Linked DNA regions of Homo sapiens. The protein of the gene in region 2 purifies or fractionates together with the protein of the main gene of each other region. This does not show direct contact. Each region holds a gene or a part of one and is shown on either strand. Other genes may lie near its edges.

Region 1 (5,932 bases), on a different chromosome or scaffold from region 2:
AAAAATTTGAAATACGCATACAATCTGTCCAATGAATCCCACTTTTAGGAAATGTGTCCTAAGGAAATCATTTGAAGAGCATGCTAAGATTTCTATCTAAGGATATTCACGATATCATTGATTAAACTATCAAAATTTGAAATAGCCCAAATGTCTTACAGTAGAGAATTAGCTAAATATATCATTCCTTATCCATATATAACACCATACAGTCAATTGAAAGATGATATTGATTTAGACATATTGATATGGAACATGCTAAGTGAACTGCTGCGTGAACAAAGTAGTTTCAAAACAGAACATATGTCATGAACTCAGTTTTGAATTTTAATTAATACGTGTACATCTGCATAAGAAAAGGTTTAGACCAGAGGTGGGCAAACTTATTCTGAAAATGACCATACAGTAAATTTTTCAGGCTTTGCAGGCCATTCAATCTCTGTCACAAGTACTCAACTCTGCCACTTGTAGTTTGAAAGTAGTCATAGACAGTGTGTGGAAGAATGAGTGTGGCTGAGTTCCAATAAAACTTTATTTCCAAAAACAGGTAGCAGGCCCAATGTGGCCCAAAGGCTGCTGTTTGCTCACTCCTGGGTCTAGAAGAAAACATACTAAACTGCTAACGGTAACTATTTCTGGATAGCAGAACTATGGGCGATTTCTAATTTCCTCTTTATAATGTGATAATTTTTGCATGTTCTCAATTAAATTTAATCATAAGCATGTATTATTTAAAAAACCAATAGCATGTTCTTTTCTTTGTTTTTGGTGGGGCTGGGGGAGGAGGCTTTGAGATGCCCAAGACATGCATGGTTTCCTATTTTAATACAAATTCTTATTCATTGTTTCTCAGTTTTTCTATAGGATACCACAAAGACCTCTCAACATACATTTGAAGGAAAGGAAGAAATGGAGGGAGGAGAGAAGGCGGGAAGGAAAGAAGCAAGGGAGGGAGGAAGGAAAAGAGGAGAGGGGGAAGGAAAAAATAACAAACTCCAGTCCTGTCCTGGGGTTAGGGAAGGGCATGACCCACCACTAGACATAAATCACAGTGGGCGAGCTCTCTGTCAACCTCCTCCAGAATGGCAGGATCCAGGTTTTCTCCAAACCACACGACGTGAGGTCGCAGCAAGCCCCCGCAGCCTGCCTCTTCACACCTGGAAGAATGGGATCCTTAAGCCAACCCCGAGCCAAGTCTGCCCAGCTGGATCGGAGGGAGGCCAGGGGCTGCCCCAAACCTAGTACATCCAGATGGGTCACCTCTGATGCCTCTTATTCCCTACACCCTCCCTCCCAGCCTATATAAACTTGCCTTGCTTATGAAGCATCAGGTTTAATGGTCTTTTTTTTTTTTTTTTTTTTTGAGACGGAGTCTCACTCTGCTGCCCAGGCGGAAGTGCAATGCCATGGTCTCCGCTCACTGCAACCTCTGCCTCCCAGGTTCAAGCAATTCTGCCTCAGCCTCCCGAGCAGCTGGGACTACAGTCATGTGTGACCACACCCAGCTAATTTTCGTATTCTTAGTAGAGACATGTTTCACCACATTCGCCGGGCTGGTCTCAAACTGCTGACCTCAGGTGATCTGCCCTCCTCGGCCTCCCAAAGTGCTGGGATTACAGGCATGAGCCACCGCGCCCTGCAGAACTGTCCTTATTTTTTATCTTGTCTGTATGTACTTGATGTGCTGACACATTGTTTCAGCTAAGCTTTCCCAGTTCATTCATTATGCTCACATTTGTGCTCACAGCCACCCAGACCTGGGAGACATACTGGACTCAGATTTGCCTCCCACCCCAAGCATCCCCTAATTTCATCAATGACCTCCTTTCATGTTCTCTCAGGTTCATGTCTCTCTGGCCCAGTATGTAGCCAGCTTTCCTGTGTCCATTACTAAAAATCTCTCTTCTTTCACTCCCTCCTACCTCAGGGTTACCTTCTATACACCTCCTAAAACCATCCCCCAAACACCATTTTCATCATAGTAATCTCCTGCATCACAGGAATCCTCCAGGTCTACCTATTCCTTCAGAAGAAAACTTTTAATATTTAGCAATTAAAACCCTCATGAGGAAAATTTAAAAGGTTCTGTGGTTAAATAAGCCAGTAAAGCATTAACATACGTATTACAACCACTTTTTAGAAGGCAGCAATGTGGATTAAATGCTCTAAAAAGTCCTGCAGTAAAGCAAACATATTTTAACTTTGTTTAGTCTAACATTTCCATATTTATTTGAGTGCCTAACATGTTTTTTTCAAGTAATGTCTCAACGTAACATTAAATTAATGTTCTATGAAACACTTTTAGAAGTGCTGTTTTATTTTACCTTAAAAACACTCTAATCCAGCCGGGTGCAGTGGTTCACGCCTGTAATCCCAGCATGTTGGGAGGCTGAGGCGGGTGGATCATCTGAGGTCAAGAGCTCGAGACCAGCCTGGCCAACATGGCGAAACCTCATCCCTGCTAAAAACACAAAAAATAGCCAGGCGTGGTGGCGGGCGCCTATAATCCCAGCTACTCGGGAGGCTGAGGCAGAAGAATCACTTCAACCCAGGAGGTGGAGGTTGCAGTGAGCCAAGATCGTACCATTGCACTCCAGCCTGGGTGACAGAGTGAGATTCCATCTCAAAAAAAAATAAAATAAAATAAACACAACAAAAAAACTTCTAATCCAATTACAGGTTATAGAAGTGCTGTTTTAATGCCTGGTTTTGAAAAATTGGCATAAAAATCTTCCTTTTTTTTTTTTTTTTTTTTAATCTATGAACATTCTGTTTGGTCCTGTAACCTCTCCTATTCAGGTCCTTTCATTGCCTCCCTAACCCTGGATTAATAATGCCAGTGATGTTATTTGACCAGTTACAGGTCAGCCCCTATGCTTTCTGTACACTGGGTAACCACCTGTCGCACGACAGCTTCAGAAACTTTCCCGACCTCAAATGATCCTACCACAACACAAAGCAAAAAGAGGTTGGAAAAAAATCATTCTTTTCATCCTAATTTGGTTCATCCTTTGTCCTTTCACTTTTGGTCTCAGAGATCAAGCCTGGTTTTTACATTTGTGCATTTGATTTAAGAGGCGTCTTGCCAAATACATGTTTAGGTTTTGATGTCTGTTTTTTTTTTTGTTTTGGTAACCTGGAACACCAGTACAAATCAGAGTTTTCTACCTACCGGGGAAGTTTCTCAACTGGGATGCTGGCATCTTGAGTTCCAGGTTCTGGAGCACTGAAGTAAATAATATTAGAAAAGAAAGATTGTTATTGGCATAATAAAAAATAAAGAAACAACATAACTCAGTTTGTATATTTGCCTGGCAGTATGTGGTATAAAACTCCTAATTAATACATGCTCACTTGGAAGGGCATTAGAAGGAAGGACCCCAAGCCATTAATTACCAGTGGTGCTGGGCACAGTGGCTCATGCCTGTAATCCCAGCATTTGGTGAGGCCAAAGTGGGAGGACTGCTTGAGGCCAGAAGTTCAAGACAACCCTCGGCAATACAGTAAGACTGCATTTCTACCAGAAATACAAAAATTAGCTGAGTGTGGTGATGTGTGCCTATAGTCCTAGCTACTTGGGAGGCTGAGGCAGGAGGATTGCTCGAGCCCAGGAGTTGGAGGCTGCAGTAAGGTGTGATTGTGCCACTGTACTCCAGCCTGGGAAACAGAGCAAGAACCTGTCTCAGAAAAAAAAAAATCACCAGTGGTTGTACTGCCAGTGAGGGAATGCATGTGTGGGGAGGGCTGGAGTGGCTGGGTGTGCCAAGGGGGAACTTCATGTTTACCTTTATACATCATCATCATCATCATTTGTATCCTCTGCAATGACATTATATAGTCCTTATACAATTTATACTGTTTTTAAAAGGCTGAGTGGAATTTTTCTCAATATTGTGTCTACCCTCAAATTTTTTCCTCATTGTAATAATAGTACATGTTCATAATAGAAATATAGGAAAATTCAGAAAGATATAAAGAAGAAATTAAAAATTACCCATAATCCCTCCACTCCTGATATTCCTTATTAACATTTTGTTGTATTTTCTTCTGGTCTTTTAACTATATACAGATACACGAACTCATTGTGTGTACAAATTTAGGACCCTGTGGTTTTCACTTAACACTGTAAGTTGTGAGCAAAATATTTCTTTTATCACATGGCTATATTTAGTTTTTTTGTTTGTTTGTTTGTTTTTTGAGACAGGGTCTCCCTCTGTCACCCAGGCTGTAGTGCAGTGGCATGATCTCAGCTCACTGCAGCCTTGACTTCCCAGGCTCAAATAACCCTCCCACCTCAGCCTCCCTAGTAGCTGGGACTACAGGCATGTGCCACCACACCCAGCTAATTTTTGTGGTTTTTTGTTTTGTTTTGTTTTTTTGTAGGACAGGTTTCTCACTGTGTTGCCCAGGCTGGTCTTGAACTCCTGAACTCAAGCAGTCTCCCCACCTTGTAACCCCAAAGTGCTGGGATTACAGGCATGAGCCACTGCACCCAGCCTTGTATTTAGTCTTATTTCTCATAAATATCCATGGGAATCTTTGATGAATGTTCAATTTCCTCACATTTATGTTCAACCTAAAGGAGAAAACAACCTATACTTATTCTGTAGTGTGGTATAATTACCCTTTTCCTGATAAAGCTGGACAAATTGGACTCTTGTAATTCTCAGCCACAACTCCACAAGAGGTACATCGAGTTTTAAATAAGCTACCTGAAAAATACATATGAAGCAAATCCAGAATTTAGTATAATCAAGAGCAACCTTCTCCATGTCTAAAAGGGTATAAGATACTTTATTTTTCACACTTCATTTCATGTTTTGGTCTCACCCAGTTACCCAGGCTGGAGTGTAGCAGTACGATCATAGCTCACTGCAGCTTCCAACTCATGGGCTCAAGCGATCCTCCCACCTTTGCCTCCTGAGCAGCTGGGACTATAGGTGTGCACCGCCACACTGAGCCATACTTCATTTTAGCAAATGGGCCTACCCTAGCTTTAGCTTTCATGGGAAACAGAGGCATGCAGTACTCTTAAGCCAGTCAAGAGCATATGCCCTCAAGGACTTTATAATCTGGAGGAAAAATAAATAACTCCATGACTAATGTGCCATCAGATGACCTTGGAGTGGTGTTCAAGTGGGCAGAAGTTGCCAATAGGGTAGAGGGAGCTCAACCTAAATCTAAGGGCGTGATTTATTGACATGACTGACAAAGGTTCAATGGCGTGGGATATGTTTACAAAATTTTAACTTCGATTTCAGAAAGCTTGAATCTTTTATACAAAAGCACCTCAATAAATAAGTAATCAACTAATAAGTGAAAAAAGTAATTGTTAATACTAACCACCACTTATTGAGCTGAAGCAATCATGGTGGCCACAGTTTATGAAATGGGTACCAGGCAACTGGTGCCGTGCAGAGCACTTTCAACCCTAGTGGACATGCGCTGCTCCGTCCTGCCCACCAGTCCTTCCTTGGGGAGCACCATCCCTGCTCTCTCGCATGCTGAGCCAATAGGGCTGTGGGTCACATCCCAAATACAAGCTCAGCCACATGCTGCGCACGGCCCCCATGTGGTGTCCATCCCTCTGCAGTCGTGTTTGGTCAGAAGGGTGGGCGTGTGGACCAAGCAAGCCTACCCAGAGGTTTATTTTCTGAGCAGGTGGCTGAGCTGGAGCCGTCGGAGGCACTCTCCCTTGGCGCGTGGAGACAGATCAATTGCAGAGAGAGAAGGGAGGCCACCTCAAAGAGTGAGCAAAGCTGAAAGAAGGAGGGGGACAGGGGCCGGGAGGAAAGATGACATAAGCTGCACCACTAGGCTCCTCAGTTTTGTGAGCCAATAAACCTACTTTGTCAGTTTTAGCATAGACATTTTTCCCCATTTTCACATCTCTGAAATTCAGATGTGTCCTACAATTGCTACTGGCCAGATG
Region 2 (6,553 bases):
AGCCTGCCATGGCCAAGTCCAGCCAGAGCATGCCGAGGAGCAGGAGGCTGCAGACGGTCCCTGGGGAGGGCATGGCCTCAGCTGGGTTGCAGACAGGTGGGCCTGGGGGAGAGAGGGTCTCCAGGCAGCTGCCTCCCCTTCTCATGTGCCTCTGAGCTTGCTCAGGTAGGAGCCCAGCAGATGGCGTGAAGGGCTTTACCATCTGGGGTCCTGACTGCTGTGTAGAGAGGACCCCCGCTTCCACCTCCCAAGGTAGAAGATGATGGATGTGTGTTCTCTTCTCCAAGGCCGTTCAGGGCAGAACACCTGGCAGCAGGACTTGATAGGGGCTGGGGGTCCTCCCCGGTGCCTTTTGTCCCAGGCTCTGAGAGCTCATGGCGAGTCTTTTCATGAGGAGGGAGGAAGCTGAACCAGCAAGGGCCCCAGGGCACTCAGCAGGGAGGGGGTTAGAGGTAGCTCCTAAATGAAGCTCTGTCTTCCAGCCAGACAGTCCGACATCCCCCGTGTTTAGAGGGGACTCCTGAGGCCCAGAGAGGTTAAACGGACGGGCAGCAGTCACGGACAATAAACCTGTCAGCAAACGCACACGGAGAGTAGAGAGAGCTTACCTGCAGTTCCTGGCGGAGGTGGTGCCTGGTGGCTGTCAGGTCCTTATATAGGATGACTGGCGTTTGTTCTAAACCAGCAACCCCATCCCAGAGGTGGCCTAGCTTCCGTGGGGCTGATGTACATTCCTTGGGAACTAAAAATGTTCTTGTCCTCTGGGTAGAAGTCAACAGTGGAGGTCAGATGCCCTGCGGAATTGCTGGGTTGGCGAGGGAAGAAGCATGTGCTCCAGCTGTCCCTGGAACACGGTGGCGGGGTGCCCCAAGTGGGCATGGCCCTGGTGGAGGAGGGAGGGAGGAGAGTGGCTCTGGGGTCTGGGTGCAGCTTTGTTGCTGTGTGACCTTAGCTTACTCGCCCTTTCTCCCTGGGTAAAATGAGGCTGTCATCACTAGGAGAGCTCTGAGACCTCCCCAGTCCAGCGCCCCGTTGTTTCCCATGTGCTGTTGCTGCTCTGGCCTCTGTGAGCCCCGGGAGTCCGCAGGGAGCCAGGCTGGTGATTCTACACCTTCCCGAGGAGGAGTCCCACCTCCCGGTTGAGCAGACTGCTCCTGATCATCCTCTCCAGAGAGTGGGTGTGGGGATAACTTCAGCCAGTGGCTATGCTTCAGTCATTTCTGCCAGGTGTGACATGACTGCCTGGCCTGGCGTTTTTTCACATAGCAGCTTGCCTTGCCTCCCTCCAGCAGCTTTGGTCCCTATTTTAGCGGATGCCTCTTCTGAGAGGGAAGTGCATTGGACCTGGAGGTGGAAGATCTACGCTTAGCACGGGCCTGGCTCCTCTCTCATTGACTGGCCTTACGCCGACCACAAATAATTCCCCTTACCCAGAGTCTTTGAGGGTGAAATGAGGCGATGGGGGGAAAGTGGCTTCTAACCTGTGAAACACCCTGCAGATGACAATGGTTTCATACCAGGCCCATAGGACTTCCCAGCATAGGCCAAGGCCACTGCCTCATTTCCCTCGGCCCCAGGAATTTCTTCCTTTCTGGAGTGCTTCATCCAACTGGGTGCCCAGGCAGGAACCCCTAAGGGCCAATGAGTTGTCTGCAGAGAAGTTCTAGCAGTTCAGGAGAGGAGCTCACCTTAGGCTGGGGCTTGCGGCAGGGATGTTAGCAAAGGCTCCAGGAAAGAGGCCTGTGGTGAACTCGGGGCAGGGCTTTGGAGGGAGGGCTTTGCGGCAAGCAGAGGGGAGGTGAAGGCGTGGGTAGAGTACATCAGGGCAGCATGGAGAAGGCTGGGTGGCTTGGGGGAGGGTGGCGATGGGGTCATAACAAAAACATAAGAAGGTGGTTTGGGGCCAGGTGATGGATGCCTTGGGAACTGCTAGCCCAAGAAGTTTGGGCTTTTTTTGCAGGAGGGCAGCCACTGAGGATTCTTGAGGAGAGAGAGACCATAGAATGAATGAAAGAGTTGGAAAGACTTTAAAGCTCTGGGAGGCTGAATCCTTTATTTCGCTGGAAGAAAAACTGAATGCCAAGAGGGCCTCACTTTCCCCAAAGCTATACAGCCATCAGGGGCAATGCTGGGATTCCCCCATGGATCTCTTGACTCCTAATACAGTGCTCTTTCTGATATGCCATCTGGCTCCATAATGAACATTGTGTTCCAGGAAAATCAGTCTGCGCTGAACAGGATGGAATTGGGGCAGGACGTCCAGTGAGGAGGACATTGAGGCAGTAGAGCAGTTGATTGCCGAATGACCACCTACCCTGACTTAAAAGATCAACCTCAGGGAGGATTGGAGCTTTCTAGAGTCTCTTGGGACAGCAGAAGCACAGGCCGGGTTGGACTGAATCTTTAAGTGGACATGAGGGACAAAGTACCTCCTGTTGGTAAACATCTCACCACCAACCCACTGTGGTGGCTAAAATCCCACCTTTAGTCCCAGCAACATATGAGCATGTCACCAGGAGGTCTTCACAGGCCTGTCTGCCACCTGAGTGTAGACATCTTTTGGCCCTGGAGCCCAGAGAGGCTGAATGTGGAGAGGGTGGAGAGAGGTCTGTAGTCCTCAGAGAAGACTTGCAGCTTTTTCAGAGCCACCAACCCATAAAAAAAAAAATCCCCAAACAGAAAAATCCTAACTGTGGTGACCAGGTACCTCCTGAGACATGAAGCCTCCACTTACCTGGACCCTGGAGGCCTCTCCGGGCACAGCTGCCAATGTTGATCTTAGATAAGACCACCAGCAAGTAAACATCCACTGTGCAAAGCTGTGTTATCTTTGGGGAACTGAAATGTCCCCTGGGAGTTGGAAACTCCCCTAGCCACATACCACAGAGTTGAGGAAGGAAGAGCTGATGGACGGAAGAACCATGGCGGGAGGAGTCATCCGGAAGCTACCTCGCTGCCCTGTCAGTTACGGAACAGAGGAGAGATGCCGGCTGGAGGACACAGCAAATTTGAACCAAGAGGAGCTTGGAGGAAGCCCGAGCGACCTGGAGGGGACTGGCTGACCTTCCTCATTCTTTTCAAGTGTGAATAATAACCAAGCCCAGTTTGGCAACTCCTTGAGGGTGAGGACGAAGCCCCATTCTCCTTTTTGGAACTTGGTGGGGCTCAGGAAGCAGGTTCTCTCCAGTCGGTGGCTTTCCTTTCTGTTGCGGGTCTCTTGAGGGCCTGCCTTCATGAAGGCACATGAGTGACTCATCATTTGTGAATTAATTGCTATATGTGAAGGGCATCTGAGAACAAATTATCTTCATAGACTTTTCATTATAATTTTATTTGTACTGATAATTAGTTGGTTTAGCAAGCTCTTTTTTCATAGATTTGGCTAAACTTCAGTCTGAAAGAGGCAAATTCTGGGGTTCTAGAAAGAGATTTTATTCTTTGATATAGGGCTATTTGGTGGGGTTGCTTTTTGTCCTAGTTGTAGCTTTTATAATTTCGAGATTCACATTTTGCAATAGAAATATACAGGCATACCTTGGAGGCATTACAGCTTTGGTCCCAGACCACAATGAAGCAAGTCACACGAATTTTGTTGGTTTCCCAGTAAATATAAAACGTATGCTGATACCATACTATAGTCTAAGTGTGCAACAGCATATGTCTAAATGAATATACATATATATTTTTTTGAGACAGGTTCTTGCTCTGTCACCCAGGCTGGAGTGCAGTGGCACTATCATGGCTCACTGCAGCCTCCACCTCCCTGGACTAAGATGATCCTCCCACCTCAGGCTCCCAAGTAGCTGGGACTACAGGTCACACCACCACACCCAGTTAATTTTTGTATTTTTTGTAGAGACAGAGTCTTGACATGTTGCCTAGGCTGGTCTTGAACTCCTGGCTTAAGTGATCTGCCTGACTTTGCCTCCCAAAGTGCTGGGATTACAGATGTGTAGTCTTTGAAATCCAGTGTGTGTTCTTACAGTGCATTTCAATTTGGACTAGCCATGTTTCAAATGCTCAGCAGCCACATGCGGCTCATTCTAGATAGGCGGCCATCGCTCTTAAATCCTCCCTGACCTTAGCCATGCTCTCTCATCCCTCCTCTTCGCCAAGCTCTGCCTCTCTCACTGGGGCTTCCCTAGCCTCCGGCCATCTTGGGGCCAAAGCTCTAACACTTTGCCTCTCTCGTGTCTTCTGTTCCCCTCCAGTGGCTTCTGCTTTCTGCCTTAAAATACACCCAGGTTCCTAATCCTGAAAACGTCTGTTGTGCACCGATCCCACCCTCCCCTCGTGTTACCATCTCCATTTCCTTCCCCTTTCCTTGTGTCCTCTTCTTTGCTGTGTCCTGGCCCCTCAAAACTTGACCTTGCCTCTCATCCCCACTGCTGTACTGAAACTGTTGTCTCAGCGTTGCTGATCATCCAGCCTTTTAGTCTATGGACCGCTAAGAGCCATAGGACGACCTCAGGGTGGGACGTGGCTTGGAGGGCCATCTCGTCTCAATTTCCAGATACAGACCTGTGTTGGGTTGTGTTGGATTCATGAGGAAAGCTTCATAAGTTTTATGCACGTTTATAAGACTCCATCCTTGGATTCTGATCCAGTAGCTCTGGCGTGGGGGCTTTAGAATCTGTTTCAAGTATCTCAGGTAATTTTGATTATAAATTACCAAGTATCCCAGGTAAATTTTGATTATAAATGCTTGCTTCCAGCAGAAAATATAAACATATGGAAGATGAAATCTTTCTCTCTGAATAACCCAATTCAGTTTCCACTCGTGAATATCTTATATAACCGTAGTACATTTATCAAAATTAAAACACCAGTGTTAGCACATTACTGTTAATCTCCAGACTATTTGTAAGTCACCAATTTTTCCATTGTCCCATCTGTTCTTCCTTTTCTTTCTCTTGTCATAACCACTTTTAGAGGGTTTTGAATGGTATCATTTTGTCTTCACCGTCGGCTTATTAGCTATACTGTACTGTTCTATTCTTTGAGTGGTTGCTCTAGGATTTACAAATATGACTTCAACATATTGCAGAATACCTTCAACAACTACGATATCCTTTCACAGATAGTGTAAGAACTGCACCACAGAATGCTTTCATTTCCCCACTTCTATTCTTTGTGATATTATTGTCACACATTTTATTTTTACTTAAGGTATGAGCCCCACAATGCATGTTAAATAGCCAAAGTTTTTAGACAGATTAAAGAAATTAAGAAAAAGTCTTATGAACTCAGGTATTTACTATCGTGTTGCTCCTTATTCCTTAGTGCAGATCCATTTTTCTTTTCTTTTTTATTTGAGACAGGGTCTCACTGTGTCACCTGTGGTTGAATGCAATGGCGTGATCTCAACTCACTGCAGCCTCCACCTTCTGGGCTCAACTGATCCTCCCACCTCAGCCTGTAAAGGGATATTTGCAAAGGGATATCGGAGTTGTTGAAGGTATTTGCAATATGTTGAAGTCATATTTGTTTTTTTTTTTTTTTTTTTTTTTTTTTTGAGATGGAGTCTTGCTCTGTTGTCCAGGTTAGAGTGCAGTGGCGTGATCTTGGCTCACTGCAACCCATACCTCCTGGGTTCAAGCAATTCTCCTGCCTCAGCCTCCTGAATAGCTGGGACTACAGGCATGCGCCACCACACCCAGCTAATTTTTGTATTTTTGCTAGAGATGGGGTTTTGCCATGTTGGCCAGGCTGGTCTTGAACTCCTGACCTCAAGTGATCCATCTGCCTTGGCCTCCCAAAGTGCTGGGATCACAGGCATGAGCCACCGCGCTGGGCCTGAAGTCGTATTTGTAAATCCTAATTTTTGTATTTTTTTTTGTAGAGACAAGGTCTCACCATGTCGGTCAGGCTGGCCTCACACTCCTGGGCTTAAGCAATCCTGCTGCCTCAGCATCCCAAAGTGCTGGGATTACAGGTGTGAGCCGCTGTGCCCAGCCTGTTTTTCATCTAGTATTTTCCTTCTGCCTGAAGGAAACTTCTTTGACATTTCTTGTAATGGCAGCTCTGCTGGTGATTAATTCTTTCAGCTTTTATTTGAAAGAGTCTGTATTAAAATATATATATATTTTCACTAGGTATAGAATTTGAGGCTGACAGGTTTTTTTTTTTTTAATTTTTTCAGTACTTTAAAGATGTTAATTTTCTTATGGTTTGCCTACTTTCTGATGAGAAGTTGGCTGCTGCTCCTTTTTTTTTTTTTTTTTTTTTGAGACAGAGTCTTGCTCTGTCGCCCAGGCTGGGGTGCAGTGGCGTGATTTCGGCTCACTGCAACCTCCACCTCCCGGGTTCAAGCAATTCTCCTGCCTCAGCCTCCCGAGTAGCTGGGATTACAGGCACCTACCACCATGTCTGGCTAATTTTAGTAGGGATGGGGTTTCACCATCTTGGTCAGGCTGATCTCGGACTTCTGACCTCGTGATCCACCCGCCTCAGCCTTCCAAAGTGTTGGGATTATAGGCGTGAGCCACGGCGCCTGGCCTGCTGCCACTCTTATATTTGTTCTTCTGGATGGAATGTCTCTTTTTTTTCTGGT
Region 3 (6,498 bases), on a different chromosome or scaffold from region 2:
CTGCAGTGAGCCATGATCATGCCAGTGCTTTCCAGCCTGGGCAACAGAGTGAGATGCTGTTTCAAACAAAACAAAACAAAACAAAACCACTAAACATAGCATTATTGTATAACTCAGCAGTTTCACTCCTATGTATACACTCAAGAAAATGGAAAACAGGACTAGAACAAGTGTTTGAACACCAATGCTCATAGTAGCCCGATTCCCAATACCAAAAGGTGATAACATCCCAATTGTTGACAGATGAATGGATAAACAAAATATGGTATATACATGCAATGGAATATTATCCCTCCATTAAAAGGAATGAAATTCTGATCCATGCTACATGAAAGAACCTTGAAAACTTGATGCTAAGTGAAATAAGAAACACAAAAGCCCAATATTGTATGATTCCACTTATAAGAGGTATCTAGAAAAGGCAAATTCATAGAGACAGAAAGTAAAACAGAGGTTACTAAGGGATGGAGCAGAAGGAAATGGGAAGTTATTGCTAATGGGTGTGGAGTTTCTGTTTGGGATGATGAAAAGTTCTGGAAAGCATGATATAGTTGCACAATATTGTGAATGTACTTAATTTCACAGCATTGTACACTTAAAATGGTAAATTTTATGTTATGTATATTTTACAATAAAAATGTAAGTGGTTAGATCAATCCTATAATAAAAAGCTTATAAAAAATGAGTAGAAATGGCCAGTCGTGGTGGCTCACGCCTGTAATCCCAGCACTTGGGAGGCCGAAGTGGGCGGATCACTTGAGGTCAGGAGTTCAAGATCAGCTTGGCCAACCAGATGAAACCCCCGTCTCTACCAAAAAAATACAAAAACTAGCCAGGCTTGGTGGTGGGTGCCTGTAATCCCAGCTACTCGGGAGGCTGAGGCAGGAGAATCGCTTGAACCCGGGAGGTGGAGGTTGCAGTGAGCCGAGATTGCACCACTGCACTCCAGCCTGGGCGGCAGAGTGAGACTTTGTCTGAAGAAAAAAAAAAAAAAAAGTAAAAAGGAGAAGGAGAGTGAGAGAGAAAAGGAAAGAAGGGGTGGGGAAAGTTTGGGGTATTCAGTGAATCAGAAGTTTGGGATCAGCTTCACCCCCACATAGGGGCTGGCACATTGCAGGCACTCAACTCAATGAGAGAATGGTAGGGAAGGAGGGATTTTGAGAATTTGGCTAGGGTAGACATTGTATCTCCCAGAATATTCTGGGAGAAATCGAAGTTAAGACTGGAATTCTTCTTCTTCTTTTTTTTTTTTTTTGAGACAGAGTCCCGCTCTGTCACCCAGGCTGAGGTGCAGTGGCACAATTTCAGCTCACTGCAACTTCCGCATTCCGGGTTCAAGCGATTCTAGTGCCTCAGTCTCCCAACTAGCTAGGACTACAGACACACGCCACCAAGCCCGGCTAATTTTTGTATTTTTAGTAGAGACGGGGTTTCACCATGTTGGCCAGGCTGGTCTCGAACTCCTGACCTCAGGTGATCCGCCCGCCTCAGCCTCCCAAAGTGCTGGGATTACAGGCGTGAGCTACCAAGCCCGGCCTGGAATTCTTCTTAAATTACTTGTGTTACTAAACTTTACTTCTTTGAATACAACTCGTTGTTGAGGTTTGGCCACACGGGGCCCTGAGCATATAAGTGGGTTCCCCTAGGGGAAGCATGGAGGGTGGTAGGGTAATGGCATCTATTTAGTCTGGTGGGTCAGGTGCCAGCTGAGCCTTACAGTCAGGAGAGGGAAGGATATTCAGGCAGAGGAGGCGCCGAGGCAAAGGCTGGAGGACAGAGATACTGCAGGGTGGGCTACAGCTTTGCCTCTCGGTCAACTGGGCCCCAGGCCTAAGAAACTGAAGCGATGGGGATGATCCACACCCAGACCACGGGTTACAGAGGGGTCTGTCCATGGCGGGCGCAGGGCGCTTTCTTTGCGTCGGAGGGTGTCTGGAGGGAAGGAGAAGCCTCTGGAGGGAGGGAGAAGCCTCCGGAGGTCGCCCGCCACGTGTCTTGAGCCGGGTTTCCAGCAGAGGGCGCACAAACGAGGCGGTGCTGAGGCCCGCGAGCTGCCGCTCTAGCCGAAACCTGGTCAGAGAGTCGCACCGCTTCCGTCCGTCGGACAGAGGAACGGTGGAAGTCGCCGGAAGTTCGGTGGGCTCCAGGCGTCGCGATGGAGGAGAGCGGGTACGAGTCGGTGCTCTGTGTCAAGCCTGACGTCCACGTCTACCGCATCCCTCCGCGGGCTACCAACCGTGGCTACAGGTGACTACCCACCGCCAGACCAGGCTAGCTCCAATTTAACCCTTTCTCCGCCACCCGGACACACCCACTGCGGGAACCGAGGACAGCCCTGGCCAGTTTTGGGGCGAGGGGGAGCTAATGCTGCTGCTTCTTCCAGTTCCAGGCCCGAGCAGGGAGGTGGATCCAGAGTTTCGCCCGTCTCAGTTCGACGCACGGGACTCCTGGCGGCGGGGAGGGCGTTAAAGCCGTATCTAGCGCTTAGGGACCCCGGTGGGCTGCCGGGTACCCTAAACTTGGTCGGGGGTGGTGATGTCACAGACGCTTCTCTTTCAGCGCTAACCGGTGGCCTTGAAGGGATCCTCGAAAAGCCTTAAGCGGGGAGGTGCCCTATCACAGACGGAAATCCCCGAGAGGAGGGGAGGGAGCCCAGAGCCGGCTGAAAGGACCGGTCCCGGGGAGCTTTAAGGTGACGGTCGAAGCCCAGGGACCCCTTCCTACCCAGATCCCTTCGCACGAATTTCACCCTTGATCACAGCCTGGAGCAGTTGGGAGGACCCCTTCTATATTTCTCTGGTCTCTACCTGAGACGAATAAACACACACGCTTGTAAACATACTGAGTATCTCTGCAAAGGAACACAGGAAACTGCCCTAGGGGAGGGGAACCGCCCTTGGAAGGAAACTTCCTTTCCCTTTTGTGCTGTTTGCGTTTTACTACTCTTTGTATGCGTTATCTATCAAAACGACGAAAAATATTAAAAGAAAAAAGATACACTTCATACAGACAACCTGGCCTATGGCTATTTTGTGCCACTGAGTGGTGGTGGGGAGTGCTCGTATTTGCGGGGGCCTGGGTGGCTCTTGAAGGCGATGGTTGTCCAAGTTTTTCGGAAATACAGGATTGGTCTGCACCCCAAGAATGATGGAACGTCCACATTTCCTCTTGTTACTTTCCAGTTGTGTTACCGTGGGCTCATAGCTGATCTTATGGTGAAAAGATGCGTTAGTGAACATTACATTCATGACATATTTTAAAATAGTATAAAAACAAAAACAACAATAACCAAAATACATTTGTTTTCTGTCATCAAACTGTGGTTGGACCATCAAACCATTGATGGTCGTCTAGCCCCATCTCCTGTTGGGTCTTTTTTTTTTTTTTTTGAGACAGAGTTTCCCTCTTGTTGTCCAGGCTAGAGTGCAATGGTGCGATCTCGGCTCACTGCAACCTCCGCCTCCCGGATTCAAGCGATTCTCCTGCCTCAGCCTCCCGAGTAGCTGGGATTACAGCCATACACCACCACACCCGACTAATTTTGTGTTTTTAGTAGAGATGAGATTTCTCCATGTTGGTCAGGCTGGTCTCGAACTCCCTACCTCAGGTGGTCCACTCGCCTCGGCCTCCCAAAGTGCTGGGATTACAGGCAGGATCCACCGCGCCCGGCCCCCTATTGGGTCTTTAGTAGGATGGATTTGGTTCCTCTTGGTGCCCCAGAGAGCGAGGTTATGAATTGTCAGGGCTGGCTGGTTTAGCTTAGAGGAAACTACCAGTGCCTGCACTTAAGTCTTGGAGCTCTCCTTAGCCTGAATCTCAGGCCTGGTAAGAGGAACAGGAACTGAGTCTGCTGATTTGTGAATTGAGAATCTGCATTTGTGCAGCCCTCAAGACAGCCGCGTCCAGGGTTCTTGAGAACTGGCATAGGGACTTCTAAGAAAAGCCTCCTGGAAACACCTGCGGTTCTTGCTATTTGGGGATTTAACTGACCTTTTCTTAGAACTAAAATGTGAAGTTAATGCTTTAAAAGAGTCAAAACAGCTGGCTGTGGTGGCTCACGCCTGTAATCCCAACACTTTGGGAAGCCTCGGTGGAAGGATCCCTTGAGCCCAAGACTTCAGGACCAGCCTGGGCAACATAGACCCTATCTCTATAATTTTTTTTAATTGGCCTGGTGTGTTGGTACACACCTGTAGTCCCAGCTACTCAGGAGGCTGAGGTGGGAGGATCTCTTGAGCTCAGGAGGTTGAGGCTTCAGTGAGCCGTAGTTGCGCCACTGCACTTCAGCCCGGGTGACAGAGTGAGACCCCGTCTCAAACAAATTAGAGCCAAAAGAGGCATTGCTGTAGGTTCATGGTTTCCTGGGTTTCTTCCTAAGGACCCATTCACTTTTCTCACATGTACTGTTGTTCTCCTTTTCTCTTCTGGTGATTGTTCCATGCTGTCTTTTTCTTTCAAGATAGTCTCACTGGTCTCAAATGGTCGCTCTGACTGCTGCAGTCAAGCAGTGTCAGAAACAGAATCAGGCCCCTGCAGCTGCTGCTTCTATAGAAAGGAAACTGGAAGGAAGTCCTACGTGGAGGAGGACACTGTGGTCTAGAGAGGGGGTCACCAAGTGACAACCCAGTGTGTTTTTGTATGGTTCACACCTAAGAATAGTTTTTACATTTTTTAAATGGTTTGGAAAATTTTTAAAGGAGAGTATTTCATACTGGGAACATTACATGAATTTCAGATTTCAGTGTCTACACTTTGATTGAAATACAGCTGTGCTCAGTAGAAAATAGTTAAGATACCTAAAGCATCACCACGTGCATGTTCTATACTGATTTTACCCTACAGCAGCCGAGCTGCCTTGTTGTGACAGGCTGTGTGGCCTGTAGAGCCAAAGATATTTACTGTCTGACTCTTTACAGAAAATGTTTGCCAACTCTTGGGCTAGAATAAGCAGCCCTTTCCATTCCCAGCATTGGGGTCACACAGCAGGAGCCTCTGGCAGAGATTCAGTGGTGTTTGTCCCCTTAGGGCTGCGGAGTGGCAGCTGGACCAGCCATCATGGAGTGGCCGGCTGAGGATCACTGCAAAGGGACAGATGGCCTACATCAAGCTGGAGGACAGGACGTCAGGTAACCGGAAGGGAGGCTGCATCAAGCTGAGGGGCCGCACCCCACTTTATGAAGGGAGAGGTGGCCTGGTCTGGCCAGGCTGCTCAGGGGTCATGGGAACCTGTCCTGAAAAATCAGAGACGTGTGTGTACCTTTAAGCTGTACCATTCCCCCACCTTAGTTGTAGAAAGTACCGTCTCCAGGTGTAAAAATGAGTATTTCATGTCAAACACTAGTTCCTTTTAGGAGTCCTCAGGAAAATGTGGGGGCCAAGGAGAGGAGACCGCAGCTTGGTCCTGGTAGGAAGTAGGAAGCCCTGGAAGTGGCCTTGAAGACAGGCGGGTGAGGATGCACAGCCCTCTGCCGCTGGGCTCTGCTTCCTACTGAGGAATTGTTTATCAATGCAGCGGTAACTCCCAGAGCTGACCACACCCATTAACCGAAGAAGCTGGAAACTGTCCTACTCAGCTCTTTCTGTAGTGAGAGGACGAGCTGAGCTGGGTTGTGTTGGGGTCAGCTGGCAGAGATCGTCTTGGGGGAAACTTCACAAGTCCTGGGCCACCTGTGCCTCTGGGTGAGCTGTGGAGGGCAGTGCACCTGGAATCCCCCAGCCGAGACCCCTAGTGGGGTCGGACACAGTGTCTGCTCAGTCAGGTGCCACAACATTCGGTCATTTATTTTTTCTAATATGTAGAGATTTTCCTTTGTAGAGCAGAAGAGAAAGTGCAAAAGTTTAGAGAGAGAACTGGCTGCCTCTTCTCAGAACTATGTTCTGCCTGAGCTGCTGGATGTGGGGTGAGCCACATGACCTCTGGGGCCTTGGCCTCCTCCTTGTTGAAATGGGGATCATATTAGTTCCTCCTTCATAAGATTGTTGGAGAATAGGAAGTGAGCAGATATTTCTGTAATGCTTTACGGACTGCGAGGCAACCCAAAGCATTGATGTGTTCTTCGGGAACTTGGGTACTGGCGGCAGAGGAGTTTGGAGAGGCAGCTGCCATGGCCAGACCAGAGACTTTAAGCTGGAGAATTGCTGGGACACCCCAGGTAGTGTCATAAGAGAATGGTAACACCTCGTTCTCTGAGGAATTTGGTAACTGCGACTTTATTTTAAAAAATCATTTGTTTTTAGATGGAGTCTTGCTCTGTCACCCAGGCTGGAGTGCAGTGGCACGATCTCAGCTCACCACAACCTCTGCCTCACAGGTTCAAGCAATTCTCTGCCTCAGCCTCTCGGGTAGCTGGGATTACAGGCGCCCCCCCACCACGCCCAGCTAATTTTTTTTGTACTTTTAGTAGAGACGGGGTTTCACCATATTGGCCAGGCTGTTCTTGAACTCCTGACCTCGTGATCCGCCCACCTCGGCCTCCCAAAGTGTTGGGATTACAGGTG
Region 4 (5,932 bases), on a different chromosome or scaffold from region 2:
TTAGCCAGGCATCGTGGCACACGCCTGTAATCCCAGCTACTCGGGAGGATGAGGCAGGACAATCGCTTGAACCTGGGAGGTGGAGGCTGCAGTGAGCCGAGATCACACCATTGCACTCCAGCCTGGGCAACAGAGTGAGACTCTGTCTCAAAAAAAAACAAAAAACAAAAAAAACCCAGGCACGGTGGCTCACGCCTGTAATCCTGTAACCCTAGCACTTTGGGAGACCAAGGCAAGTAGATCGCCTGAGCTCAGGAGTTCGAGACCAGTCTGGGCAACACAGTGAAACCCCGTCTCTACTAAAATACAAAAAAATTAGCTGGGCATGGTGGCGGGCACCCGTAGTCCCAGCTATTTGGGAGGCTGAGGCAGGAGAATTGCTTGAACCCGGGAGGTGGAGGTTGCAGTGAGCCGAAATCGAGCCACTGAACTCCAGCCAGGGTGACAGAACAAGACTCTGCCTCCCAATAAAAAAAAAAAAAAAAGGCCAGGCTCATCGTAAACTATGTTACAGAGACATCCCCAATATTGATTTTGGCAATGGGAACAGGAGCTTAAGTTTCACAATCAGGGATACTATTCCTTCTATATCACACCATGGTTTGGTGAAGTTCACCTGTTGGCAGAGTCTTCACTGCCTCTTCATACACAGCACAGCACCTCTCCTCCTTCCGGCCGACCTCCACTGCTTTGGCTTGTTTCGTTGTAGGCTGCTCTTCTGTCTGTGACTCAATCTCTAATTCTCGCCTTGCCACATAATCCCAAGTGAGAGGATCATCTGTGTGTAGAGCCTGAAGGCTGAAAAATACAATTTACTGTTATCAATCCCACAACAAGAAACTGACTCAGAATATCAGAGAAACAGTTACCTGTGCTTAAAAAATCTACACAGGACATCCCTGTAACAACTGCAGTACCATAAAAACTATTTCCCAGGCCGGGCCCGGTGGCTCACGCCACTGGGAGACCAGCACTTTGGGAGTCTGAGGTGGGTGGATCACCTGAGGTCGGGAGTTCGAGACCAGCCTGACCAATATGGTGAAACCCCATCTCTACTAAAAATACAAAAATAAGCCAGGCATGATGGCATGTGACTGTAGTCCCAGCTACTAGAGAGGCTGAGACAGGAGAATTGCTTGAACCCAGGAGGCAGAAGTTGCAGTGAGTCGAGATCGCATCACTCCAGCATGGGCGACAGAGCGAGACTCTGTCTCAAAAAAAAAAAAAATATATTTCCCAACAGGCTCTCCAGAATATGTTCACTAACTGTAGAAATTTTGTCAATGGATCAGAATTGTCCCACTTTTTCACTTTTTTTTTTTTTTTTTTTGAGCCAGAATCTCATTGCCACCAAGGCTGGAGTGCAGTGGCACAATCTCAGTTCGCTGCAACCCCCATCTCCTGGATTCAAGCAATTCTCCTGCCTCAGCCTTCCAAGTAGCTGGAATTACAGACGCATACCACCACGCCCAGCTAATTTTTGTATTTCTTTGGGAGAGATGAGTTTTCACCATGTTGGCCAGACTGGTCTCAAACTCTTGACCTCAAGTGATCCTCCTGCCTTGGGCTCCCAAAGTGCTGGGTGGGATTACAGTGTGAGCCACTGCACCTGGCCAGAGCTGTCCCACATTTATTGAGTTTCAGAATATTTCAGGTATCATTCACAAATGTTAACTTTCAAGTTAGCTCTCAAAGTCAAATCAGCAGTTATCTGTGACAACACAAGACTCCAAGAGACCTGAAGAACTTTTTTTTGTTTTTGAGATAGGGTCTGTCACCCAGGCTGGAGTGCAGTGGTGCCATCATGGCTCACTGCAGCCTCCACCTCCCAGGCTCAGGTGATCCTCCCACCTCAGCCTCCCATGTAGCTGGTACTACAAGTGCATGCCACCATACCCAGCTAATTTTGGTAGTTTTATTGTACAGAGTTTTGCCATGTTGCCCAGGATGGTCTCCAACTCCTGGGTGCTCAAGCAATAGTCCATCCCAAAGTGTTGGGATTACAGCCCCTGTGCCCAGCCTAAAGAACTTTATTATAGCTGAGCTCTTCATTTTCGTTTGTGTGTGTGTGTGTGTTTGTGTGTGTGTTTTAAGACAGAGTTTCTCTCTTGTTGCCCAAGCTGAAGTGCAGTGGCACGATCTCAACTCACTATAACCTCCGCCTCCTGGGTTCAAGCGATTCTCCTGCCTCAGCCTCCGGAGTACCTGGGATTACAGGCATGTGACACCACACCCAGCTAATTTTTGTATTTTTAGTAGAGGCGGGGTTTCACCATGTTGGCCAGACTGGTCTCAAACTCCTGACCTCAGGTGATCCGCCCGCCTCGGCCTTCCCAAGTGCTGGGATTACAGGCATGAGCCACTGCATCTGTTTTTTTTTTTTGGAGACAGAGTCTTCTCTGTCACCAGGATGGAGTGCAGTGGGACGATCTCAGCTCACTGCAACCTCCACCTTCCAGGTTCAAGCGATTCTCCTGCCTCAGCCTCCTGAGTAGCTGGGATTACAGGTGCATGCCATCACACCAAGCTGATTTTTCTATTTTTAGTAGAGACGGGGTTTCACCATGTTGGCCAGGATGATCTCAATCTCTTGACCTCAAGTGATCCGCCCACCTCGGCCTCCCGAAGTGCTGAGATTACAGGCGTAAGCCACCACACCCAGCCCAGGGTTCTTCATTTTCTAAATAATAGAGAAAAAGCACAACCTACTCCTCTCTCAAAACCCTGAAGATATCCAAACAACAGATTGATTCAAGTTCCATTTCCCCTCCTGTCAAAGGAAGAGGTGTTACCAAAAAACGGAAGTACCCACAAGGTAGGCTAAAAATATTTTTTTTTTCTTTTTTTGAGACAGGGTCTCACTCTGTCACCCAGGCTGGGGTGCAGTGATGCAATAACAGCTCACGGCAGCCTCAACCTCACAGGCTCAAGGGATCCTCCCACCTCAGCCCCGCAAGTAGCTGGGACTACAGGCACATGTCACCATACCCAACTAATTTTATTGTTATTTTTTGTAAAAACAGGTCTCGCCATGTTGCCGAAGCTTACAAATAATTGTTAAACCATATAATCAGACATTAAAGAATAAAATTACCAGCCAGGTGTAATGGCTCACACCTGTAATCCTTGCACTTTGGGAGGCTAAGGCAGGAGGATCACTTGAGCTCAGGAATTCAAGATCAACCTGGGCAACATAGTGAGACCTCATCTCTATAATTAAAAACATAAATAAATAAAAATATAATAAAGAAATAAAAAGAATAAAATTACCAGCACTCAACTATAAACATATGAGTATAACTCTCATTTTATGGATAAATGCCAGGAAAATAGAATTTAGAATTTTATATAAGCTTTAGATTTTTTTTTTTTTTTTGAGATGGAATTTTGCTCTTGTTTCCCAGGCTGGAGTGCAATGGCACAATCTTGGCTCACTGCAACCTCCACCTCCCGGCTTCAAGTGATTCTCCTGCCTCAGCCTCCCGAGTAGCTGGGATTACAGGTATGCGCCACCACGCCCGACTAATTTTGTATTTTTAGTAGAAACGTGGTTTCTCCATGTTGGTCAGGCTGGTCTCAAACTCTCGACCTCAGGTGATCCATGCATCTCGGCCTCCCAAAGTGCCGGGATTACAGGCTTAAGCCACCGTGCCTGGCTAGATTTTTTTTTTTTATTGAATAAACTATTTCCCCCAGTAAGTGAATCAAAGAACTCAATCAGGAAGATACTTTTTTTCTGAGACACGGTCTCACTCTGTGACCCAGACAGGAGTGGAGTGGCAGGATCACAGTTCACTCCAGCCTCAACCTCCCAGACTCAGGTGATCTTCCCACCTCAGCCTCCAGAGTAGGTAGGACCACAGGCATGCACCACCACACCTAGCTTATTTTTTGTAGAGACAGGGTTTCACCGTGTTGCCTAGGGTGGTCTCAAACCCCTGAGCTCAAGGGATCCACCTGCCTTGGCCTCCCAAAGTACTGGGATCCCAAAGTGTGAGCTACTACACTGGGCCAGGAAATTTTTTTTTAACGTAATATGATATTAATTTTTTTTTTTTTTTGAGATGGAGTTTTGCTTGTCACCCAGGCTGGAGTGCAATTGTGGGATCTTGGCTCACTGCAACCTCCGCCTCCCAGGTTCAAGCGAGTCTCCTGGCTCAGCCTCCCAAGTAGCTGGGATTACAGGCATGCACTACCACGCCCAACTAATTTTGTATTTTTAGTAGAGACGGGGTTTCACCATGTTGGTCAAGCTGGTCTCAAACTCCTGACCTCTGGTGATCCACCCACCTCAGTCTCCCAAAGTGCTGGGATTACAGGTGTGAGCCACTGCACCCGGCCAATATTAGCTTTTATTCCAGGGATTTAGTGTGGTATCTTCTTTCTCTTCTACTAAATATCCAACCTCAAACCCTTAATCTCAAGATCAGAAATAGATATATTCACCTTTCTACTAACTTTACTTACTCATCATAAATCTCTTTTTGTAGATCTTTGGCAAAGTCAAATAGCTGTGCAATCGAAAGCAGTGACACGTGAAATTCTGCACCTAAATTTAAAAAGCAGGGGAGGGGAAGTTTATTGCCAATAAGAATCACTTTACTTTAAAAGTAGCATTCTTTTCATGTACTGGAGTTAATCTTCTTGTTTTTTGAAATGAGAAATAGAATAAAATAGAAGAAAAGTCATCCCATAGTCCCCTCACCCCAGTGTCCCCCTACTCAAGCAAAGCTATTGTTAATCTTTGGAGTATTCATAAAAAAAGAACTAATTTTCAACTCCCCACGATTTAATTACTCCATGAGAACTTACTGAGGATTGGTGCAATGGCTCACACCAGTTATGCCATCACTTTGGGAGGCCAAGGCAGGAGGATCACTTGAGCTCAGGAGTTCAAGACTAGCCCGGACAACATGGTGAAACCTCATCTCTACTACAAGTACAAAAACTAGCCAGGCATAGAGGTCCATGCCCAGCTACTCAGGAGGCTGAAATGGGAGAATCACCTGAGCCCATGAAGTCGAGGCTACAGTGAGCCATAATTGTACCACTGCACTCCTGCGTGGGTGACAGAGTAAGACCCTGTCTCAAAAAAAAAACATGGAAGGATAAATGAGTACACGCTGGGTACAGTATACACTGCTCGTTGATGGGTGCACCAAAATCTCAGACATCACCACTAAACCTGTTCCCCAAAAACCTATTGACATTTTTATTTTTTTGAGATGAAGTCTCGCTCTGTTGCCCAGGCGCTCTCAGCTCACTGCAACCTCCACCTCCCGGGTTCAAGCAATTCTCCTGCCTCGGCCTCCCAAGTAGCTGGGATTACAGGCGCCCACCACCACACCCAGCTAATTTTTGTATTTTTAGTAGAAATGGGGTTTCACCATGTGGGCCAGGCTGGTCGCAAACTCCTGACCTCAGGTGATCCACCTGCCTTGGCCTCCCAAAGTGCTGGGATTACAGGCATGAGCCACCATACCCGGCCCAAACCTATTAAAATTTAAGGGAAAAAAATGGGAGTAGAATATAAATTTTAAAAAGAGACTTATGCCAGGCATGGTGGCTCACGCCTGTAATCCCAACACTTTGGGAGGCCAAGGCGGGCAGGTCACAAGGTCAGGAGTACGAGACCAGCCTAGCCAACATAGTGAAACTACGTCTCTACTAAAAATACAAAAATTAGCTGGGCAGGGTGGCACACACCTATAGTCCCAGCTACTTGGGAGGCTGAGGCAGGAGAATCACTTGAACCCAGGAAGCAGAGGTTGTGGTGAGCCGAGATCACGCCAATGCACTCCAGCCTGGGCAACAGATCAAGACTCCATCTCAAAAAATAAATAAGTTACTGAAATGTTCAATTATAGCCTAGGAAAAATAAGTATTTTCTGAAAGAAACAGGACACTATTCCTACAGAGTTTTATACACATT
Region 5 (4,972 bases), on a different chromosome or scaffold from region 2:
AGACAGCTGCCAGGCAGGTAGAATTACAGAAGCATAATGAAGAGATGGTGATATTTAACAAATATTCTCAGCACGGAAAATTATTCTGCAGTTAACCTGAGCCAAAGAGCTGGCTGGCAGTGGCACACTGCTCAAGTTGGGTGGCAAGTTCTGCTACTGCTTCAAGGCAGGGACAAGTGAGAGGTATGGCTTCCTCCTGGACTTGATCACATTCATTCTTGAACAACTTGCCTTGTCTCAGCTTGCTCAATTGAATAATATTTTATGTGAAATGATCATAAAAAGCTTGAGATATGAACATGCTTAGGAATGTGGGGTAATCTGCATAAAAAAAGAAAAAAGGAACAGAACTGTAGTGACACTGAACAGATACTCTTAGTTATGGATTAGTTATGGCATTTATCCCATCCTGAAAAAGCAAAACACTTTAGAAAAACAAGTACCTATGTTTTCATATGTTCCTGGGCCAAACAATGATGGGTTTGAGCCCTTTTAGCTATTTCTCATGACATCCAACACTTGCTACTTGTATCATAATTAACACATCCTTTGCCTCCTACCAGACCCAGCCCATCACAGCACTGAGAACAGGTGTCTGATTTGTCTCTCTCTTGGTGACTGGCATTTTTGTCAGTAAATCCTCCTCATCTCTTGGCTGTGCCCTGAGTGCCTCCACTGCTGCGGCTCAGGCATCTCAGGCATCCTGCATTTCTCATTGGGACAGAGCAGCCTCCTAACTTGTTTCTATACCTCCAGTCTTCTGATGGTGGATGGTGGGGAGGAGGCGGGGAGGTCCATCTTTATTTTCCATCTACCCACCACCCCATCTGGGCCAACACTTTAATATCACTGATGAATCTCTGGGGCCCAAGCCTCCCATCTTGCATTCCTCATCCCTGCCTTGGCGAGGATCCTCTCCTGGTCTTCCTGAAGGGTTCAAAAGTCGCTTCTGTGAAGTCTTCCTGAGTATGGTCCCTTTCCTCTGCAGCACTCTCAGGAACCCTCTGCAGCATGCATGTTGCTCCTTGTCTCTGTTCACTGAACCCTCACAACTTGTTTACACATTACCCACCCACCCTGCCCTCTGCAACCCAGGGGAACGTCCAGGATGGGGATGGCATCTTGTTCATCTTCATATCCCTGGTAGTACCCAGCACAGAGGAGGTATTCAGTATTGGGTTGATCAAAGAACAGTAGGTACTTGACTTCAAATAATTATCTGGTCTTTAAAAAAAAACGCATTTCCAACTGTAGCCTGTACAATTTTTTTTTTTTTTTGAGACGGAATCTCGCTCTATCACCCAGGCTGGAGTGCAGTGGCGCAATCTTGGCTCACTGCAATCTCTGCCTCCCAGGTTCAAGCAATTTTCCTGCCTCAGCCTCCCGAGTAGCTGGGATTACAGGTGCACGCCACCATGCCCGGCTAATTTTTGTGTTTTTAGTAGAGACGGAGTTTCACCATGTTGGTCAGGCTGGTCTGGAACTGCTGACCTCGTGATCCGCCCGCCTCAGCCTCCCAAAGTGCTGGGATTACAGGTGTGAGCCACCACGCCCGGCCTTTTTTTTTTTTTTTTGGAGATGGGGTCTCACTATGTTACTGAGGCTGGTCTCGAACTCCTGGGCTCAAGTGATCCTCCCACCTCAGCCTCCCAAGTAGCTGGGATTATAGGTGTGTACCACCATGCCTGGCTAGGATTCATGACTTTATTTTCCACCGTACTAGGTGCCAAGGAAATGGTATTCTAGTCCTCAAGATATTCAGAGTCTCGTAGTGGGAAATGACATGTAAACAATTATTCTCAAATAATCAACGTGCTGTGTTCACTGTGTCCTATAGTGATAAAAACAGATTTGGTGTCCTTTCTCTTTTTCTTTCTTTTTTGAGACAGAGTCTCGCTCTGTTGCCTAGCTGGAGTGCAGTGGCACAATCTCGGCTCACTGCAAGCTCCGCCTCCTGGGTTCATGCCATTCTCCTGCCTCAGCCTCCCGAGTAGCTGGGACTACAGGCGCCTACCACCACGCCTGGTTAATTTTTTCTATTTTTTAGTAGAGACGGGGTTTCACCGCGTTAGCCAGGATGGTCTCAATCTCCTGACCTCGTGATCCACCTGCCTTGGCCTCCCAAAGTGCTGGGATTACAGGTGTGAACCACCGCGCCCGGCCTGTCCTTTCTCTTTCTGAGCAATCCTTTGCTCAAGTCCTCTATAGATTTTTCAGGTCCAGGTTTTAACTCTTCCAAATTAAGCAAGCATTCTCAACACATATGTCCTACCTACATACCAGGCCAAATGAGAAACCCTCCAAATGCCTGGGTTAAGCCTTTTAGCCATAAAGTCTTTTCCACCAGAGCATCAAAGTCCATGGATGGCCGGTTCTGAAGCAGAACAGCAACTATTAGGGTCCAGGGGCTCAAAACCATGTTTTCAATTTGCAGAAGCTCCATTTTGTAGGCAACTTCAGTGACAAAGGCATGCATGTCCTCAGACTGTTTCTGAGGAATGTATCTAAAAGGAAGAGCACAGAGCAACAAATTACAGTTCTGTTACTTAGACAAATGGGGATGGAAAAAGACTCTAGACGTTTTAGAAGGCTTCTCATACTTTGTGCCAACTGAATTCTCTCAGGTCAGGTGCAAACAGTATTCCTTTGCTTTACTATAGTGTAATCTGACCATACATTTCTGGAATATCCTCTTGAGAGATGGTAAAAATACTGAAGGGGTCCAGGGTCCTATTATTCCTGGTTCCAGGCAAAAAACTTTTGTTGCTTCCTAAATAGGATACATCGTTTCTCTGAGAATGGATGCCTGCCCCAGTAGACTAAATTACTATCTTTTCAGAATGCATAGCACGCTGAACATATCTCCATTGTAGAACACACTTAACAGATTATATAATAACTATTTTATACTGAATGGGTGCCATTCAGTTTGTCTGACTTCATGCATGGATTACCAAACTTTGAATAGTACAATAAGGCCTGCACAGAGCTGGCTGGAGCAGAGATACACACATGACCTAAAAATTGCCACACAGGTGGCTTAATGTGAAAGATGCAGCCAGTAAGGGTGCCCTGTACTAGGTAATAGCCAGCCAAACCAATTTGAGATCTAAAGAGAGAGCCTGTGTCAGGAAAAAAACTAACATAAGCGTCTGTGATGACTAATGTAGCTGCTGGGAAACTGCTAAAGCTACAGATAAGTTACAAATGATGTTGCAGCACATGAGGCCTGGAGGGGCAGATGGTTTGTCTCCCTTACTTGTCCAGGTATATTTCTCCTAATTAAGAAAACTCAAATGTGTATCTGTGTTCTTTATCCTGAAAGAACCTAATATATTTTCTTGCCTATAAAACTATAACTCTCTAGAGACTAAGGACTCACTCCCATTCATTACCATTATGCAATCCTTTCTAGGGTCAAAAATAATAGTACATACTTTGGCTAGCTTACCAATAGTGCTCAACAATTCCTGCACATATACTTGTTAATAATGGCATTATTTATTCCCACTTTAGTTCCCTTGAGAAACATGATCATTGTCTGATTTTGCATATTTGACATACATATCTCACAGCTTATCTTTTTTTGGGACAAACACATAATTCTTCTTTAATTGAAGGTTTCCACTGATGAAAACGGAATGATAACAGCATTTCTGATCATTTTCTCTGTAATCTTAAGTAAATCAAGAGAAGTGGTCAACTCCAGCATTGCAACTCACACCTTTGGATTTTAATCCTCATTTCTAAGACAGTTATTAAAACACAGGTCACACCTTGGAACCAAGTTATATGAGCTCCGACTCATCCTCCCAGCTGCCAAAGATCGAAGTGACACAGGATCTCCAAAGTACACATGGATGCTTCCAAAATTTTCAGAGAGAATCTTTCTGGCTTTCAGCAACCCCTAATAGTACCATAACAGGGGGGGAAGAAAACGAAAAGCAGTAAATTTAGAAATTAGTTGATGTGTCAGTCAGCACATTCTCTCAATTAAGCTAAAATCAAGCTCACGTACAGTTGTAGACTCTTTTGGTTTAGGAACCCCTAGAAGCTCATACACATAAAGAGTTTCTTCCAAGATCTTATCATAACTGATACTAATTGGGACAAGGTAGGTATCAAAAACTTCTCTTTTAAAAAATGGCTCCATCACAATATTCAGAAGACCTGCAAAACACAGGGAGAAATGCTTCATCAACATATTGAAGAGCAGAGCAAACATGAGCACATAAACGGAAAATACTAAAAGCATACATTATACACTAATCCCGTAAATATCAACAGTTATACATTTACACTTGAAAAGAATATCTTGTTAAATAAAGCGTCAAGTTTTATGTAGCAGCTGATGTCTTTGGGTTTGTATTTTTCCTTTTAATCTGTAGTGACCTACCAAATTTAGGAGTCAATGTCTTGGCAGAGCGGCTTCTTGTCCCTTCGAGGAAAAATTCAACAGGAGCATAACCATTCTTTAAAGAGAAAACAAACAAAACACAAAACCCATTGCCTACTCTCAAAATGATAAATGCTTCTTTTGATTCCTTTTCCCAAGCTCCCTCCCAAGCTTCCTGAACAAACACAGCTTACAGTGAAAATTAAACAAGAGAGTCACACAGATTAAACCAATTGCTGAGGTTATAAGCAGTTCTTGAGGGAAAGCAAAATAGCTAAGTGTTCTATTCAGAAGTTAAGAGTTTAAATGAGCAAACATCAGTGAAGAAAATATGGCTTAAGAGTAGTTGGGAATTATTTGCATTTACCCGTAACATAGTTTTTACATATTCAGAGAATACAGCCCAGTAGAGTTTATTGCCACCAAAGGTACGCCGCATGAAAAAGGCACCCGACATTCGTAGCAGCTCACCAACCATTTTCATTCCCAGGAAGTCTAAAAAAGAGGGGATAATATTTATTTGCAGATCTTGAAATCTTCTATAAAGATCTAAACTTAAACATGCTTATTTTTCAT

The links.
Region 1: the proteins of GHRL (region 2) and SIRT5 purify together in Homo sapiens (affinity purification with mass spectrometry; one large-scale study listed by BioGRID and IntAct). This does not show direct contact.
Region 3: the proteins of GHRL (region 2) and NECAP2 purify together in Homo sapiens (affinity purification with mass spectrometry; one large-scale study listed by BioGRID and IntAct). This does not show direct contact.
Region 4: the proteins of GHRL (region 2) and UTP6 purify together in Homo sapiens (affinity purification with mass spectrometry; one large-scale study listed by BioGRID and IntAct). This does not show direct contact.
Region 5: the proteins of GHRL (region 2) and GNPAT purify together in Homo sapiens (affinity purification with mass spectrometry; one large-scale study listed by BioGRID and IntAct). This does not show direct contact.

Annotation. Positions count from the first base shown.
Region 1 is NC_000006.12:13,594,257-13,600,188, reverse strand, and holds part of SIRT5 (NAD-dependent protein deacylase sirtuin-5, mitochondrial), read right to left. Parts: intron 4,713-5,932; coding exon 4,625-4,712; intron 3,227-4,624; coding exon 3,173-3,226; intron 2,462-3,172; exon of another isoform or gene 2,325-2,461; intron 1,160-2,324; exon of another isoform or gene 1,158-1,159; coding exon 1,034-1,157; exon of another isoform or gene 548-1,033; intron 1-547. UniProt on the Homo sapiens protein: NAD-dependent lysine demalonylase, desuccinylase and deglutarylase that specifically removes malonyl, succinyl and glutaryl groups on target proteins.
Region 2 is NC_000003.12:10,290,108-10,296,660, forward strand, and holds the start of GHRL (appetite-regulating hormone isoform 1 preproprotein), read right to left. Parts: upstream 2,841-6,553; 5' UTR 2,807-2,840; coding exon of another isoform or gene 2,735-2,806; exon of another isoform or gene 1,961-2,734; intron 1,345-1,960; 5' UTR 609-1,344; intron 103-608; 5' UTR 74-102; coding exon 1-73.
Region 3 is NC_000001.11:16,438,607-16,445,104, forward strand, and holds the start of NECAP2 (adaptin ear-binding coat-associated protein 2), read left to right. Parts: upstream 1-2,117; 5' UTR 2,118-2,155; coding exon 2,156-2,247; intron 2,248-2,566; exon of another isoform or gene 2,567-2,692; intron 2,693-5,025; coding exon 5,026-5,126; intron 5,127-6,498. UniProt on the Homo sapiens protein: Involved in endocytosis.
Region 4 is NC_000017.11:31,879,957-31,885,888, forward strand, and holds part of UTP6 (U3 small nucleolar RNA-associated protein 6 homolog), read right to left. Parts: intron 4,550-5,932; coding exon 4,468-4,549; intron 799-4,467; coding exon 617-798; intron 1-616. UniProt on the Homo sapiens protein: Part of the small subunit (SSU) processome, first precursor of the small eukaryotic ribosomal subunit.
Region 5 is NC_000001.11:231,265,212-231,270,183, reverse strand, and holds part of GNPAT (dihydroxyacetone phosphate acyltransferase), read right to left. Parts: intron 4,892-4,972; coding exon 4,764-4,891; intron 4,473-4,763; coding exon 4,397-4,472; intron 4,171-4,396; coding exon 4,019-4,170; intron 3,908-4,018; coding exon 3,777-3,907; intron 2,505-3,776; coding exon 2,281-2,504; intron 1-2,280. UniProt on the Homo sapiens protein: Dihydroxyacetonephosphate acyltransferase catalyzing the first step in the biosynthesis of plasmalogens, a subset of phospholipids that differ from other glycerolipids by having an alkyl chain attached through a vinyl ether linkage at the sn-1 position of the glycerol backbone, and which unique physical properties have an impact on various aspects of cell signaling and membrane biology.